Homo sapiens: one gene and its partner. The protein of the gene in region 2 binds, or shares a complex with, the protein of the main gene of each other region. Each region holds a gene or a part of one and is shown on either strand. Other genes may lie near its edges. The genes, in order: ITGAV and ITGB6.

Region 1 (4,648 bases), about 26 Mb from region 2:
CATTTTACATCTTAATTGGAGCCAAAATATCAAGTATGGTGGTCAGGATAGGGGTAGTTATGACTTGCTGGTCCAGGGGAAATATCACATCTAACTAAGCATATAGTGTTAGAAGTAAGGACAGTGGTTACTTTTGCAGGGCAGGGTGAGATATGATTAGAAAGAGACAGAAGGGGGCTTGTGGATGCTGGCAATACTCTATCTTATTTCCATAGGAATTTACGGTGGTGTATTATGCTACTTCAGTATAATTTCCCAAGCATCTCAACACTTAATTTTCTTCTTGGTACTTTTCATTTATAAAAATAGGTATTTTTATACTAGAATTGCATATGTATATTGCAACTGCATATATGCAATGACATATATACACTATAATTAAAAATTATAAAAGATGTAAATGTGCATTTTAAAAGGAATCTGATAATGTAAAAATAATAAAGGTTAGCATAATGAATTTAGAAATGTTTGTTTAGAAATAAAATAATTCTTATATTTCAGGCAAATACATATTTGCCTTTCTAAGGATGAATTTTAATGTGGTACATTTTGCTCTTTTTGTGTTTCTTTTCATCAAATAACTGACATTCAAGATTTGAAGTTTTACAGAAAGTTACCTCTGAGGTCATCCTTTTAGTGCATTATTGCTAGCTCATGTAATCAAAAAACAAAAACACGTCACAGAAAGGATAAACCCCATACACAAAAGTGGTACCATATGCTTATGTTTATTGTACAGTCACAAGTTACATGTTGTAAATCAAGCAGAACACTGTACCAGTTTTCACTAACTCAAATCAAGTTAGCAAATTACAAATTTTAGAACAGATTCATTTTCTGTCTCACCCAATGTGGGTGACCACAAAGATATTTACTTTCTATGTTATTAGGTAGCAAATTAATTTGATATACTACACAGCTTCCAAGTTACCTTAGGATATTTCAAAGTGTTTCAAAACTGGTAAAGAATAATTCATTTCCAGCCTGAAATACAATGCAGAATGGACCATTTAGGGGTAAATAACCTCACTTAATCACTCTTTCCTGCTAACAAAAATAATACAAATATTTGTTTATATTAGGCTTACTAAATTAATGACAACTTTGAAATTATCTAGATTTGGTTACATTGTTATATTGCACTTGAGAACAATGACAAAAAACATCAAAGATTCAGTACCTCTCCCAAGAAGTTCATTATATATCAGAAATTAAAATGAAATATAAGCATATATTGCATGCTGCATATTTCTATCGTTCAAACCAGCCAACCAACAAACTAAAAGGAATACTCTCCAAAACACTGAGTATTAAGTAATTTCATCTGCCTTTTTTGATCCTACAATCATTTTTCAAATTTTAGGTGTTTTTCTTTAAATTATTCATCAAACTACTACATATACAAGCTATCCAAGAATGCAAACAAGGTGACATTGAGATGGGTAGTGGCTGCACATAGGTATTCCAAGAACGACTCATTCTTCTCCACCAAGCTCATCATTACATTTTGCAACTTAGGAAGATCTGCCAACTTACAAATTCTGTTTGCCTTACAAAAATCGCTGATCTATTATATACAATACTTTTATCACACAAATCTCTCCCTTAGGGTCATGATTCACTATCAAAAATCTTTCACAGCCCTCTTAAGCCAGTAAAGTCTCTTTTATTAATACTTGAGTTTTCTTTATGGAAATGTAAGTGTTAATGAGAATTAACTATGAATAAGTAGTTTCATAACACAGGTAGAATGATGGCAATAATATTTTGACTAATTGTTTTACCTTTCAGATTCAGAATTACAGTGATAATCGTTAAGAGAAAAGAGAAACAGAAAAAATGACTCACATGTATTTTTCTCAAAATATCAATTCTGAAATAAATACCTATATAAAAATCAATATCAGTATCAATATTTCTTACCAATGTCAAATGTTTTTAATATCTTCTAGTTCATTCATGTTTTCTTAAAACTGAATCAGATCATAAAAATTTTACATTTCAAAATGGATTTTTATTCTCAATAAATCACAAATATGGTAGTATTTCAAATGTTTTAGAGATTTAAAGTTTTCATAGGGCAATTTTTTGATATTTAATCATGATAAAAAAAAATCCCACCATTTTCTTCAGAAAGTAGGCTTTCAAATTACTCTTCTCCATATTTTTGTAGATATATAAATGTTCATTTTTTGAAGGAAAATCTATGCTATTATACAAAACTATATTTCATAAAGGTAATTTAAGATATCATGTTAATTTCTAAATTACAGCATCTTTCAATCTCCAATACAAGATTACTTTCAAGATAGATGCCATAAAAGGAATAGATGGCACAAAAGCAAATTCTAACACTTTTGCCAAAGAGTGACTTTCTATCCAACATATTTTCAGAAATGACTGTTACTAGGTGGTAAAACTGTTAGGGTAAAATTTGTTATAGACTAACTTACTGATTGGTGGCAGGCAACACTTGGCCCTAGGATAAAAATATTTTTCTTAAAAAATTTTAAATTTATTGGTAATAAAAATACTTACTGCATATGATTAAGCTCTTTCAAGCTACTAATAAAAATCTATACTCCAAGACCCATTACTTTTGAAATTCACTAAAGCTAAAATAGAAGGTTTTGTCTAGAGTCCTACCTTGTATACCTCAACTAAATGTGCTCCTATTTTACGAATATATTCTCAAGATTAGCTCAGTCAACTTGTGCATGAAATTATGAGATATGGCAAGATAAATTTCAATCATTTTTAAAACACAGCAAAATAGTCAATTATTTAAGGGAAATATTTATCATTACCTAATGAGGACAGCAGTTAAAGAGCTATTAAACTCTCCATTTCTAATGTACAACATGATGTAATTGCACAAAAATAGGTATAACTGATCATCATCCCCAGGCCTTGAGGAACTGTGAATAAATCATATATTCCTCTAGAAGGTTCACCACTCTACAGAGCCATATAAAACTACAACTTGCCACCTATGTGGCTTTTATTAATAATCCTAGAAAAGTAATTTATACTAACGAACTTCAGAAAGGTTTAAAAGGTTTTCAGTAACTTGAACTGCTTATAAAAATACCTTTTAGAAGTTATTCTGACAGCCGAGACTGATTTTACACATTACCTTGCTTAAACAGAGGTAATATTCCTGTAACATCATGCTATTGCTAGAAGTAAATCAGTGAGTTGCCTTAAGAGTTTTTATTCCAAGCATTACTCATAAAGTTGGGGTAAGGGGTCCAGGTTCCTGTCAACTGTAAAGATTTCTCACTGATCTTGACCCATTCTCAGTAACAGTTTTGGAAATATAAGGAAAAGTACATGAATGGAGGAAAATAAATTAATACTAACTAAAAACTCTGCTCTACTCTAAGAATGTAATACTTACTATATGCATAAGCAACTATCTCAAAGAACTACACAGTATTTTAATAAAAATGCTTTTTTTATACTGTAAATAGCCAGACTAAAACAATGGAATAAATATGCTTTGGAAATAATTTCCAACTCCATATGGCTTTAAGCATTATGATATTCAGGTGAAATTAAACAATTACACAAAAGAGCCATTTGTGATTATGGAACTAATTTTTAGTATAGGTTGGCTTGAAGGATTTGACCTAAAATTTATACAAGTTAAAAATGTAATAAAATATTGTGGATTTAATATAAACAGAAGTGTAATAGGATCTACCAGATTTTCATACTAAAACAAAATATTGTACCTTTGTTATTAAAAGCAAGAATTTGGATGGTATCATGTATGTGTTTATAAAATTCTACCATATGAGTGATTAAAAAAATCCAAGTTCATGCAGTTATAAAGTCTTTAGTATTCTGAAAAGTAAACTGTAGTGTAATATGTATTAACATTAAGTACCTATACAAAAGACATGATTGCTAAGGTCCAAATTTGGACTGCTTTAAAACAACAACAACAACAACAACAACAACAACAAATAAAGTTCCGTACATTAAATCAGAAACAGTAACTGAAGGAGGTACTATTTTATATAAAGTAGTAAATCAGGCACTACCTGTCTTATATACATTGAATAAAAACTATCCCTTGAAATTTTATTATTTAAATACCTAAAAACACAAGTCACCCTATGTTATTAAATGTATGTCTGAACTTATTTATAAGGAGAAGGTTGACAAATATAATTCTCATTTTGTGGTTAATGCCAATTAGCACTATCAGCAGTAAAGCCTTGGATTTTTACTCCTCATGAAGAAAGTTTAAATCTATAATAAAGTTGCTAATTCTAGTGGGTCAAGATGTAGCATAACTTAAAAACTGCAGTTAAGTTTCTGAGTTTCCTTCACCATTTTCATGAGGTTGAAGCTGCTCCCTTTCTTGTTCTTCTTGAGGTGGCCGGACCCGTTTAAAAAAGCCCATCTGTCAGTTGAAGAAAAACCATTATTACTGTCACATCAGTGTAGAATACGAAAAGTATTTTTTGGGTGACTATATTACCACTAAGAACATTTAAATTGTATTTCATAAAATTTATCTTCCCTCATATAATAAGTAATGCTCATCAAGTATCATCATTACAGTCCCTTTCTTCCTTCCCTTACTTTTCATTCTTCTTTTCCTTCTTCCCTTTCCCTTTTCTTCTGCTTTCCCTCT
Region 2 (7,444 bases):
ACCCGGGAGGCAGAGCTTGCAGTGAGCCCAGATCATGCCACTGCACTCTAGCCTGGGCGACAGAGCAAGACTCCGTCTCAAAAAAAAAAAGTCTGCTTTTCTGCGTGGGACACAGGAGTTTCCCACAAGGATAGCAGAGGGGCAGTGAGATGTAGTCTTTCCCAGCAGAGATGTGGCCGTTCAAATTCTGAAACACCCAAAACAGGGAGATGGAGCTAATAGATTAAATACCTGTCTTACCTGATAGGCGTGGCTGCTTTAGAGTGGGCATGACACTATGCAAAGGGGAACTTGTTGCCCATTGACTTTCATGCTTAGAGAAAACAAAACCAATGCTCATACTATTTTCCTTGCCTCTTAGAACTCCAAGCCACTCTTGCTGTTTTCATCAACTAGGAAAGTTAGATTTCTTCTGAAATTGATTTTGAGAATACAATTTGTTATCTATCAGTAGGCCTGTGCGTGTCTGAAGCTCTAGGCCAGGCATGGCAAACTGTAACTTCCCATGATGTAACCAAGGGAAACAGTGGCTGGCCAAGGCTTCAGAATCCTTCTCAACACAGTGTCATTGCTATCACCTCTATTCATAGCCTTTGCCAGAAGATCAGAGGTGGTGTTAACCACATGACCTATTTTCTATCTGCCCTAAGCAGAAGCCTAATTTACTTTTTGCTCCAACTGCCTCGACTGGCATCCTCATAACTACTTCTAATATTAGAGTGGCCTCTTAGAATAATTTGGTTTTACAATTTGACAACAATTTGGCTACCAAGTATTATACACAAGTAAAGTTATCAGCAGCAACTTAGGAAACTCTCTTAAGTAAATGCTGAAAAATGCATTTAAATGAAAATTCTAGGCTGATTTGTTGTTGTATCTCTCTGGCATGAAACTAATACTTCTTCAAGAAGTCAATATCCAAAAAACATGTGATTTTTTCCCTTCTTGTATATTCTCAATCCTGCTTTGATACAGGAACTAAAAAAAAGCATAATTCTCTTGAATTTTTTTTGTGGCCGCGTTGGTCAAGGCCGTAGTAAGGGACTGAGCTGTGTCTGTGCTCTCTTGTCTGTGAGGCCACACTTCATGGATACACACTGAACTCGGAGTTTGGGTTTCCACAGGTAGAACCCAGTTCTGAGTTTGGTGTCGAGGTTTGTTGCTCTTTGAGCATGCTACTCAGCTCTTGCTGCACTTGGTATTCGTATGATTTGATTTATGTTTAGATTATCTTTATGAGATCCAGTGCATAGAGACTTGTTTTAAAATTCAGAAAGCTAATGCCTCTCTTCCTTACCATGAATCAGTTAGACATCATTCTCTAGTGTCTTAGGATGGCTTGGTACATAGTCCCCAATCATCTTCATACTGCTTTCATGTAGTTTTCGGTTTGACCAGATAAGGAGTTCCTATTTGGCACTTTGTCACTGGTGTGGTACAGAGTCACTGAGTTTATGAAAATGCCATTTTTAAAGGAACTGGATAATATCTGACCAGTAATATTTGCCCCAAACTTAAAACACATCCCTTAGAATCTAGCAGTAGTTCAGAATGGATCCTGGTACCCAGAGGGAATACAACTATAATATGAACATCAAATGTATGTTTAACTTTAGAAAATATCATCTCCATGAACTCTGATTATCCAGACAGCCTCCATATTTTACATGTAACCTGTAGAAATGGCTTTACAATAAAAGAAGGAACCAGGTAAAATAAAAAAATCCCAAGTTAAAATTTTTTTCCGAATTATTTGACATCCACTCCTTCTACAAATTGTTTTTGAAAGTAATCACATGAATGCCATTTTGATCTACCAATGCTCACCTTCTCCTTTCCTGATTTGTTTTACTTATACAACTCCACAAAAAAGCAAGTCACTATCAGAAATATCACTGAGGAAATTAACATGAATTTAACTGCAGACAGGTTTTAAAAACACATTGAGGTCATTTATTTTACCTCCTGAGCACACCAGGCACACTGAGGTCCAATAAGCAGGCAGTCTTCACAGGTTTCTGCACCTCCCAGGGCACAGCCACCTAGGTTTAGACCCAGCAAGATGCAGGGATTAAGTACACTTTCAGTCATTCCATTTATGAGACTGATGGCTCTTACATTACTTGAACAAAACAACATCAAAGTTTAGTTTAGTATCCAAAATCAGTCCTCGAAATGTTAGCAATTCACATAAAAGTTTGTATTTTACATCTATCACATGTAAAATATGTGTATGTATATTAAAAATTATGTATGTCTTATAAGCCAAAATTATCATGCTCTTTTTTCTTAAAATGTGAAAGTTCACAAATATAGGATTATCCTATTTATTATTCTTAGCCAATGTGTGCCACTTTAATTTTTAAAAATTACTTGCAACCATTAAAAAATGCTTCTTTCTTAAACAAGTTATTTCTGTTTTTGAAATAAATCCTCTTTCTCTTTCAAGATTATTACTCCTAAGTGGAAGATCTTGTGGTAGAATAAAATAGAAAAGTTTCAAAAATGGTTATCATACTGGCACTAAGTTCCATTGGGCAGTAATGTTATTTAATTCTCCTCATTAAAATGCCTGTGCAACCTTTGTATTTATTTACCTTAAGCCTAGAGCATTCACTGTGGGAACTGCCCGGTGTTTGTCTGTAATTTGTTAAAGTGTTCACTCAGTCACAAAAGAGCAATGGAACAGATCAAATAAAACATGACTTCAGATCTAGTTTCTGAACCAAATGACAGGTTTGTCAAGCATACCACGAAAGTAATATATCAGAGAACGCAGGTCTTACCTTGTACGTGATCATTCCTTCCTAGAAATAGAAAGAACAGGCAAAGCAGTTCAATCCCCATTCGTTTCAGTTCTTGCTGTGCAGACCGATTAAAAAATGAATTACCTTCAGCGTTACAAGACCAACGCTGAATATCGTTAAAGTCTTTCTTTCTTGAAGTATAACATTTTAAATACTACTTACACTGCTTTGAAAAGAAACTTGAGATATAAGTTAGAAAGTTTTCATTAAGACTGAAATGAAAACAGAGGCTACCTGGACAGGTAAAGCAGAAAAGCTGTGTTTAAAAGCAACTTCAACATGATTTACTTCCTTGTTCTCCTTATAAGGAAGGCAGGTGTACAATCACCAAGAAGGTGGGGAAATTCATTCAGTAGAAATTTTGGTGTAAGTTCTATGAGTCTCTCTGCATCCTAGAGAAAGTTAATATCTTTAGTGAAATATTGATCAATGAAAAGTCACAACAGCAATAGAAATATAGTCATTTTAAAAATAATTTTAATTTAATGTAAAGAATAAAGATTAAATAAAGCATATAGGCTATATATGAGGAAAGTAAAAAATGAGCTTAATGAAAATGCCTGAGATTTTAGTGTTTCATTGCTAAATCCTTTGCAAAAAATTGAAACGAACCCTGAAAAAGAAAAATTATTATCTTACAGTAAATGAGAAGGAAGGCTAGGGAAAGCAAAGCACTGTTTCCTTATTTTTTCAAATTAGATGAAATATATTTTTCCATAAGTATAAAATTCTTATTTTAAAATTATATTGGAAATAATCATAATATATAAAAATCAAAGGAGATCAAAATAAGAATGTCTCAAAAGACACTGATGACAACAATGATGAAAACAGAAATGATGGTGCCCAAGATTCTGAATCCCTCAGGCTAGGGACCAAGTTCTCTATGCAATGTGCTGTTCCAACCTCTAGCTCATGATTTGGCACATAGGAGATATTTATTTGTTGAGTGAAAGAGTGACAATTCAAAATATATATGATCTATGGCTAAATCCATGAGGTTTTTTGTATTTTTCCCCCAGGGTGTTCTTCAGGAAGGTGTTTTGAGATTTGTAGAGTCTGTGAACAGATAAGAATCGAATTCTCACTTCGTCACTCTAGAAACTGCTGACCTTAGAGAGACTTTTCTGTGGCCAGGCTTATGTCTGAGGAGATTATCTTTTCAAGGAGCATTCCTGGGTAAGCATGTGAAACCTGTAAACAGAGGGAAACGGACTATGGTCAATAATAATTTAATTCTACATTTAAAAATAACTAAAAGACTATAAATGGGTTGTTTGTAACACAAAGGAGAAATGCTTGAGGGGATGGATACCCCACTTTCCATGAGGTGTTTATTACACATTGCATGCCTGTACCAAAACATCTCATGTATCCCATAAATATATACACCGACTATATACCCACAAAAATAAAAACTAAAATAAAATAATTAAAAAAAAAAAACCAAAGAAAGAGAGAAACTAATTATAGACTACCTAGGCTTTTCTCAGAAGCCTATGTTATGTTCAATTTTGAACTCCATCATATCCAAGAAGCTGGAAAAACATGGCAAGAATTTTGCGGTAACAATCCAGAATTATTGAAGAATTGGAAGATATGCATTTTGAGAGAAAATTTATATAAAATTAGTTGATTTAACTTGAAGAAGAAAGATCGAGCCACAAATTGTTTGTGTCTCTGTTATTGTCATTTTAAAAATCCAGTATTAACTATTATTCATTCATTATTCATTCATTCAACAAGTACTTCTTGGGCATTTACTTTCTGTCAAATATTATTTTTGAAGCAGAGGCTACATCAGTGAACACAACCAAGTTTTTGATCCATGCAGCATATATTCTAGGCTGGAGGGCAGTGCAGGGAGATAGACTTCTAAAATCAGGCAGTGCCCAGGGCTATGAATCATAAGTCTGGGTAAAAGGAAAGAGGGGCAAGGGAGTGTGTGATTTTCTTTAGAATAGTCAGGGAGGGTTTCCCTGACCAACTGGCATCTGAGAGAGCCCTAGATGACTTTGACAACACAGCTAACTATGAAGGCCTGAGACAGCCCAATGGCAGGTGTTTTCAAGGGCAAGTGGAATACAAGAAGGGAGAGAGAGAGGGTAATCAGATTTGAGGGCAGAGGTCAGATCATATGTAGTCTTGACCTTGAATTTTATTCTATACCTTGTGTATCACTGGAAAGTTGAAAGTAGAGAAATAATACTATTTAATTTACATTTTAGAAGAACCACACTGGCTGCTGAGGAAGTGAAAATGTATGCGGCAAGATTGGAAGGTGAATGGGGCAAGAGAGGAATGCATGTCTCTGTCAAGAACAGAGATAATCGTGGCTGGGACTAGGATGTTTGTGGTGCAGGAGGAGGGGGTGATCAGATTCAAGATCTATTTTGAAACTGGACTGTGCTGATAGATTGGATGTGAACATGAAAGAAAGAGGTTTCTGTCTGGCATAGATACATTGTACTGGCTGAGTGATACATTTTACTGAGAGGGATTACATTGAGGAAGAATCAGGTTTCATGTGGAGGATGAGGATCAAGAACATGGTAAGTTTGAGATGGCTAGAAGATAACCAAGTGAAGATGCCACATAGGCAGGTTTGATATCTAGGTCTGGAAATGTGGGCAATGTCAAAGAGCAAACTGTAAATTTGGGATTATCAGCATGGGTTTAAAGATATGAGGCTGATGGTGTTCAGAGATATGTGGCTGAATGAGATCCCTCCAGGAAGCGAATGTATATAGGGAAGAGCTCTGAGGACTGAGCCCTGGGGCCTCTAGATATCTGTAGATCAAGAGGAGAAGGATTTAGTAAAGGAAGCTTCTATCTAAAGAACACTTCATCTTGCTAAAGAGGAACCTGTCTTTGTTGGAAGACAAATTCAAGTGTCTCTCACATTTCTGCACATCTTACAAGCAGAGGACCTGGCTGCCTTTTTTCTAGACTCTCTTTTCCAGGATGTTTATAAAGTGAACGGCCTTTGAAAATACAGACAGTGTCCCTCTTTAGGGAAAAGGAAAAATTGCTTACAGCTTTGGAAGATAGAGACAGTGTCAACCTGCAGAACAAAGAGTAGGCCTGTTTACTGCCCATTATAAAAGGTTCAGTTTCCCTAAACTCAAAGTTCTTCTCTTATAACACATCTTACTACATGTGCAGGAGTCACCTCTTTCTTTTGTGTCATCTTGTGGGAAATGGTATTGGGGAACTGTGAAAGAATGTGCTGACACTCTGACCACTGCAATTGCTGTGAATTAAAAAGTTCTTAAAAAAAAAAAATAATTAAAAAGTTCTTTTTCTGTGATGCAGGCATCGCATGTCTCCATCAGTACCCACAAATCCATGACAAGCTAACTTGTCAGCTTGCAAGTCAGGTAAAAGCCCAGGCCCTTCATAGTTCTTGACAATTTCCCACACAAAATCCACCTTTGTCTGGAGACTGAACATGCAACTTTCAAACCTCACTTTGGAAGAAAAGATCTTACATCCTACAAAACTGCCTTGGACTGACAAGTGCTGCCCTGGGCTCCAGAGGTTTCCCCAGGTCTTGAGTTGCCTGTCTGCCCATAGACCTCCCTGGCAGCCGCTAGCAGGCACTCTAGAGGAGCTGGATCGGGGTGGCTGCCCAGCTCTGGATATGCCAATCCCTGGAAACTCTCCATGGTTCTAGCTGCCACCAACAATCTCTCCTTCCTGAGAACACAGTTAGACTACCTCTCCTGGCCTGTTTTGCAGCTAAGAAAATCCCAACAACCAGCTCTTGCCAACAGAATACGAGTGGAAGTGGTACATACCCCTTCTAGATCATCCTCATGTCCCTCTGACAACCAGATGCAGGCAGCAACAAGGTCCTAGAACTCTAAAACCACAATTTGACCATGTATTTAAATGGACTTGTGCCATCCCACATAAAGACTTCCATCTCAGTCCTAGAATCATAATCACACTGATTGATTTATTCTCTGTCCCCCATGGCTGCCCCTCCAGTGCACACCCTCCCTAATTTTCAGGCCTTCACACAAACCATTTGTTCTTCCTGCAGGCCTTGGGTTGCCTCTCATGCCTCTCACTTGGCTAATTCAGCTTGCCCTCCAGGTCTCAGTGTAAACATTAGTGTCTGCAGGAAACACTTTTTGGTTTCTCTAGGCCTCCCCTCCTGTGGACATTCCCCAGAATAGCCATTTTTGCTCTGCTTGTAATTGTCAAAATAGTTGCCTTTACTCAACAAATATTTATTCAATTCTTGCTATGTATCAGACAGCGACTGTGTCTCAGGAATCTTTCTATTCCTAGCAAGTAACACAATGCCTGGCACTTTGTAAGTAGTCAATTAATGTTTATATTGAGAATATGGGTGAATTTTAAGTCTTCATTGTCTAGTATTTCACCAGTTACAAAGCAGGTACTTCATGGATATTGAGTAAACAGATGAGTAAATGAAAGAATGGTTTAGGAAGGTAAATAATACAATTAGGAAAGGGAAAATGTGTTCCCTGCTTGGGTTGTGCCGAAAGCTGAGAAAAAGCTTAAAATGCAACGTAAAGAAAAGGCAGGGGGGAATTTGAGACAATATAAAGTATAATAATGTTATGAAAGAATATCTATCCACTCTGTTTGCACCTTGGGACTGC

Evidence for each region.
Region 1: the proteins of ITGB6 (region 2) and ITGAV are in contact, whole or in part, in a crystal structure (PDB 9CZA), measured with the Homo sapiens proteins. Residues at the interface, in NP_000879.2 of Homo sapiens: Ser183, Pro184, Phe185, Lys187, Thr188, Thr189, Pro190, Ile236, Asp237, Thr238, Pro239, Asp273, Ser274, His275, Phe276, Gly277, Met278, Asp279, Lys281, Leu282, Ala283, Gly284, Val286, Pro288, Glu308, Thr311, Ile312, Gly313, Gln314, Ile316; in NP_002201.2 of Homo sapiens: Tyr48, Phe51, Lys72, Trp123, Leu141, His143, Gln150, Glu151, Arg152, Pro154, Asp178, Ala179, Phe184, Gln186, Phe189, Pro204, Tyr208, Trp209, Asp249, Tyr251, Tyr254, Pro274, Arg275, Arg278, Thr279, Met302, Ala303, Tyr305, Phe308, Pro328.

Annotation. Positions count from the first base shown.
Region 1 is NC_000002.12:186,676,963-186,681,610, reverse strand, and holds the end of ITGAV (integrin alpha-V isoform 1 preproprotein), read right to left. Parts: intron 4,415-4,648; coding exon 4,319-4,414; 3' UTR 710-4,318; downstream 1-709.
Region 2 is NC_000002.12:160,197,217-160,204,660, forward strand, and holds the start of ITGB6 (integrin beta-6 isoform a precursor), read right to left. Parts: upstream 3,057-7,444; 5' UTR 2,848-3,056; coding exon 2,787-2,847; intron 2,043-2,786; coding exon 1,963-2,042; intron 1-1,962. UniProt on the Homo sapiens protein: Integrin alpha-V:beta-6 (ITGAV:ITGB6) is a receptor for fibronectin and cytotactin. It recognizes the sequence R-G-D in its ligands. Internalization of integrin alpha-V/beta-6 via clathrin-mediated endocytosis promotes carcinoma cell invasion.